2 separate regions of the Homo sapiens genome follow, and region 1 is linked to region 2. The links come from fine-mapping of genetic effects on gene expression. A gene starts in region 2. The other region holds a variant in brackets. All regions are shown on one strand. Distances are between the middles of the regions.

Region 1 (2,919 bases), 40 kb after region 2:
TGCCTTTCCCATAAATTGTAGATATTAGTTACCCTTTATTTGTCATTTTTCCATGGCTATTTTAAAAAGTAAACACATTCCTAAGATCTCCATCATCTTCATAAATGTTTATTTTCAAATGAATATCCTCTTCTCGCATACATTATAAATAAATAATATTTTTCCTCTTAAAAGTAAAGGAAGAGAGATAACAAGAATTTATTTATAAGAAATACTTATAAGAAAATATATATTGGAGAGTGGAGGAAATAAATCTTTGAATTTTTCTAGGAGATATATTTGAAATGGGAAACACCTGTAAGAATGATACTTGAAGTTCAACAAATGTTTATTCCTTAACCCTGGGTGTGTGCCTATTTTTGTTTTCTTTCTCTCTGTCCCTAGACAAGCCTTGGTTTTGTGAACAGTCTCTTTGGCATCATCAAGGACTATGTAGACGCTTCTGAGATTTCCTCATCACTGGATTTTATTTCCGTGCTCACAAAGGTAAACTCCTTCTGGGAGACCTCAGCTTCATGTAGTAAAATCACCCACCTCCCAGGACAGTTGTTTATACCCTACTTGATTTTAATTCTCCCTGGGAAAGTTCTACCTCCACTCTCCTACAAAGGAACTGTCCCTTTCTCTGCCAGTCAACATTTTCAAAAATAACTTGCAGATTCTGTTTTCCCATTGCCACATCTCCTGTGTGGGTTTTATTAACACAGAAATCTGCATGCATAGAAAAGCCATTTCCAATTCTGTTTTTTAAGTGGCTTCAATTTAAAGCAACATTCACGGCAATAGTTTAGTGTTTGCTAATTACGTAATTCAGTTGTTTTAACGAAAGTACCAATTTCTCAGAAAGAAACAGAATAAACCTTCAAATCCATCAACACCCTTGATCATATTTCTGTGGGTGAAATGAGAAAAGAGGAAAACCTGTACCCCGGGTTTGATCAATGTTATTTATTTCTTGAGTAGACATTTGGACATCCTCCCCTACTTTTCTTACTTTGAGGTTTTTAATCTAATTTTAATCTAATTTCATTTAGCAAGATTTGAATTTTTACACTCCACTTTTTAAGAGAAAAAGATAGATTGAGATTTACTGAGAACCTCCCAAGTGCTATGTATGGAGCCAATACCCTGTACACAATAATATGAAAAATTAAACAAGCGCCTTGCTTTTAAGAAATTGTAAGTCTTGTAGGGGAGAAATTAATCCAATAATGACACTAATGATTATATAATCAAAGTAAGATAAATGCTGGGGAAAAGGAGTAACATAAATATAATGAGTGTCCAACAAAGGAAACCTTGTAAGTTGGGATGCATAGTAGGGCAGTCACAGATAGGAAATGCTTCCTGGGGATATGATGCTTGAGAAGATAC[A/G]TGAAGAAGGAAGAGTTTTAACAAGGCAAAAATAAGCTGCAAGATCCTTTAGTGAACATTGAAAATGGGCTTAAGTAAGAAAATCTTTGGATATTTTTGTTTGTTGTTTAGTTTTTTTTTTTTTTTAGACAGTCTCACTCTGTTGCCCAGGTTGGAGTGCAGTAGTGCGACTTCAGCTCACTGCAACCTCCACCTCCCAGGTTCAAGAGATTCTCATGCCTCAGCCTCCCAAGTAGCTGGGATTAAAAGCATGCACCACCACGCCGAGTTAATTTTTGTATTTTTAGTAGAGATGGGGTTTCACCATGTTGGTCAGGCTGGTCTCGAATTCCCTCCCAAAGTGCTGGGATTAGAGGAGTGAGCCACCATACCTGGCCCAAATTTAGTTTTTAGTAAATATTCTGGAGAAATGTCAGCTTCTCATCAAAACATGTAAGTATACTTAGAGGCCACTAAAGAATGGGGTATTATTAGGCTCTTTACTAAGGGTCTATAATAAACCCACATATGAATGCCCCACGCTATGCTACAGATGTGCAATGATGGGCTATAAAAACTTCTCCTAAATGTAAAATGTTCTAATCAGCCAGGTGAGAGTCAGTTGTGCCACGGTAGCAAATGACCTCCAAATCTCAGTGGCTTGGTTCATGTCTCACTATGCTCTGCTTCCAAGTTGTCTTGACCCTGGGACCTCTGCTGATGAAATGGCCACTACCTGGAACATTACCATTTGGAGACCATGGCAAAGCACTCACTGGCTCTTTGAGTTTCTGCCCGAAACAACACATGGCATGTCTGCTCACATTTCATCAGTACATGGCCAAGCTTACCTTCAGTGGAGCAGCTACATATCATCCTCCCCAAGAAGAGCAAAGAGATAAACAGGAAACAGTATACCTGTGCCTCACAAGAAGCTCACCAGCTGGAAGATAGGGACGTCTTGTTATTCACATGTGAGCCATCCAATGAGATAGAAACTGAGGCTTAGAGAGGTTACATAATTTAGCTAAGATCATATAGCCAATGGGTGATAGAACTGGATATCTAAGCCTGACCATTAATGACTCTATTTTTGGTGGGGGAGGGGGTGGTGGGGGTGATCAGAGTCTTGCTCTGTCACCCAGTCTGGAGTGCGGTGGCACGATCTCAGCTCATGGCAACTTCTGCCTCTCAGGTTCAAGCAATTCTCCTGCCTCAGCCCCCCGAGTAGCTGGGACCAGAGGTGTGCGCCACCATGCCCAACTAATTTTTGTATTCTTAGTAGAAACGGGGTTTCATCATATTGGCCAGGCTGCTCTCGAACTCCTGACCTCAGGTGATCCACCTGCCTCGGTCTCCCAAAGTGCTGGGATTACAGGCGCAAGTCACCGTGCCCAGCCCCATTAATGACTCTTAATCTTGGCTTCTAACCAGTTACCTCCTAGTTCCAACATTTCTCAAGCATCTCAGTGTCCATGAGAAGACCCTCTCTTTACCTCCAAGTCCTTTTCAAGGCCCAGCTATCAATATTCCCCTCCAAAATAAACTCACATCATCTTTCAAATT
Region 2 (2,919 bases):
AGGTGGCACATTTTTTTCCGTGATAATCTTTTGTGACCTTTCTATAAGACTCTTAATTTCCTTCTTGAAGTTACAACCAGAGGTTGGAAGTTTTTGCATTGGGATCAAGTATTCCATTATCATTATCCCCTAGGAGAGACAGCTTTACAATCCCATGTGCGTGAGGGGATTGGTAGAAAAGAGTATGACCTTCCTTCCACAAACTAAAAGCTAAAAGACTTTATTCATTTTTTTCCTTCCCAAATTGAAGCAATTCACTTCTAGACATCCTTGGCAGGAGCTCAGAACTGTTTATGCAGGCTCCATGCAGGCAAAATATTTTTTGATATCCTGCTTTTGGTTGAGTCATGGTAATGTTGGCAATGGTGGTGAGGGCAGGAGATCAAGTCATTTTTCAAAGTTCTAAGTAAATGATGTTCTAGTAAGATCAATATGAGAGAATTAAAGACTAATATAAAGTTTATCACAAGGCCAACATCTATAAGTTAGACCTTTTTTTCTTTTCCTCTAAGGGCAGTGGTTCTCAAATTTTAACCCATGTAAGAATCACCTGGAAGTCTTGTTAAACACAGACTTCTGGCTGGGCACAGTGGCTCACACCTGTAATCCCAGCACTTTGGGAGGCCGAAGTGGGTGGACCACCTGAGGTCAGGAGTTCGGACAGCCTGGCCAATATGGTGAAACCCCGTCTGTACTAAAAATACAAAAGTTAGCCGGGCCCTGGTGGTGTGCACCTGTAATCTCAGCTACACAGGAAGCTGAGGTAGGAGAATCGCTTGAACCCAGGAGGTGGAGGTTGCAGTGAGCTGAGATCGTGCCACTGCACTCCAGCCTGAGTGACAGAGTGAGACCCTGTCTCAAAAAAAAACCACGGACTTCTGACCCCATCCCAGAGTTCCAGGGGTTGGAGAGCATGGAGGGGGAAGATTTTTCCTTTCTAACAAGTTCTCAAGTCATAGTGATACTGCTGGTCCAGGGACCCTACTTTAAGAACTACCGACCTCAGGGAACCTTCACAGTAAGTATCTGTAATGAGTCCAATCAATGAAAACTTCAGTGAATTAGACTTCATTAGAATTACTTCAACTTTGTTTTGGGAAAGTCTATAGACATTTTTGTTTAATGCTGCATACATATGCATTATCTCCACCTAGGCATCAAATAAATATTCTTTGGGGTACTGATCTAATGAGAATACTGGTAGATATAAATGCTCTTCCATTTGCATTTTAATTATTTGAAAACTAATGTTCACAAATTCACTCCCTGGTGCTCTAATCATTTCCTCTACTATTCAATGCTTATCAAAGCAAGTCATTAATAAAATAGATCAACACAAAATGTTTTATGATGTGAAGAAAGTAGAGTCCCAAAGAATGCATCTCACAACCTTAGAGAAAATAAATGAAATAGAAACCTAGAACTGCTTCACTGAACTATGAGTGATGATTTGTTGAATGCCTCAAGAGGAAGTAAAAAGTTACATTTGCATCATTTCTGTATTTGATCAGCCGTTGTTTACCTGACTTGTTCTTAGGCTGCCTTAGATTCTGAGCTGGCTTCCCTTTAGGCTTTTTCATAAACAAATAACTGGAAATGTCTCTAAGGAGGGGAGAGACCAGTTCCTCATTGCAGCTGGTAGCAAGGTTGCTTTCACTCAGCCAGGAGGACGCATTGTTACAGGTGTGGAACTTGTTGCTCCGAGCCCTCGCCTGGCAGCTCACTCTGGATCTGCGGGTTCTGAGGAGCCTCGGGACCCACCTGGGTGCAGTTGCCTTCAGGGACAGACCATCTTACAGGTATTAAAGGCAACATTCAGCTGCTTTCTGGGTTTCTCTCTTGCACTTTCCTTTTGTCCTATTGCTATCAGTTTCGCTTGTTTTGCTGATCTCTCCAGGTCTCATTAGAATTAGTGAATCATTAACCTGCAATGGTTTCATTTCTAGTACAGTGAGATGGCTTCCCCAACAGTGTGGGTGGGTGTTTGCTGGATTCTCAAAGCTTGGAAGGTCAAAGGTTGGTGAATTTTCTTTATGGTGACCATGTATTAATTTCCTCTTTTAAACATAAAGAAGAGTTAGCATGAATGGATTGACTTGTTAACTTTTGATTCTACCAGATCCACTGGGTGTAGTCATTTAGGGAAAGCTTCCCAGGAGCCTTAGCCATTATCTCATTTAATTTCTGCAACAGGCCTGTGAGGGAGGTTCTTTGATGTCCTCTTGGTAAATGCTGCATGGCAGTTGGCAGAGGAGAAGTGGCTTGTCCTAGGTCACACAGCCAATTGGCGGTGATACTGGAAGAGAAACCAGACCCATTTCTTCTGGTGCTTGAGCTCTTCCTGCCTTTCTGCAAACCACCTCCCTAAGCCCTGCTGTTTTTAAAGTTTCTCCATTTCCGCAGTGCATCATGTCGGCAGTTACTATTGCCTTGGTTCCAATATTTAAGACAGTGGCTAATAAATAATTCTTACCGATGTGAATCCTATTGGCCATAAATAACTTCCTACCAGCAGCTACACCCCTGTGTCTGAACGACTACAAAGGAAACCCAAAGCCGTATCCTAACCCCTCAAAAGAGGAGAGGAAAAGGCCAGAAGGACAGAGGGGAAACCCAAAGACTAAGAAATCTGATCTAACTATTATGCAAGTGCCTATGCAAATATACTGAATTCCTTTAACATTGTTGCTGCCTAGAACTTGGACAGTCTTCTAAAGGAGAAAAATAATAGAACGGCCCTGATTGTATGTATGTGTGAAAGTACCTATTGATTCAAAATTAGCTGGGTGGGGTGGTAAGCATCCATAGCCCCAACTACTCAGGAGCACTGCAGCATGAGGATTCTGTGAGGCTAGGAGTTTGAGGTTACAGTGCGATATGATCACACCTCTGCACTCAGCCTGGGCGACAGAGCCAGAC

The links.
Region 1: its variant is fine-mapped to the expression of PLEKHG7 in tibial nerve (GTEx, PIP 0.96).

The regions. Positions count from the first base shown.
Region 1 is chr12:92,741,107-92,744,025 of GRCh38, forward strand. PLEKHG7 (pleckstrin homology and RhoGEF domain containing G7) reads left to right here. Exons shown (of 17, transcript NM_001377329.1): 9 at 385-486. Among named protein-coding and RNA genes, the nearest start is that of PLEKHG7, 40 kb to the left of the region's middle. The variant A/G (reference allele first, on the strand shown) is at 1,375.
Region 2 is chr12:92,701,334-92,704,252 of GRCh38, forward strand. It overlaps PLEKHG7 (pleckstrin homology and RhoGEF domain containing G7), which reads left to right and starts at 1,656. Exons shown (of 17, transcript NM_001377329.1): 1 at 1,656-1,799. RefSeq lists an enhancer at 1,797-1,856.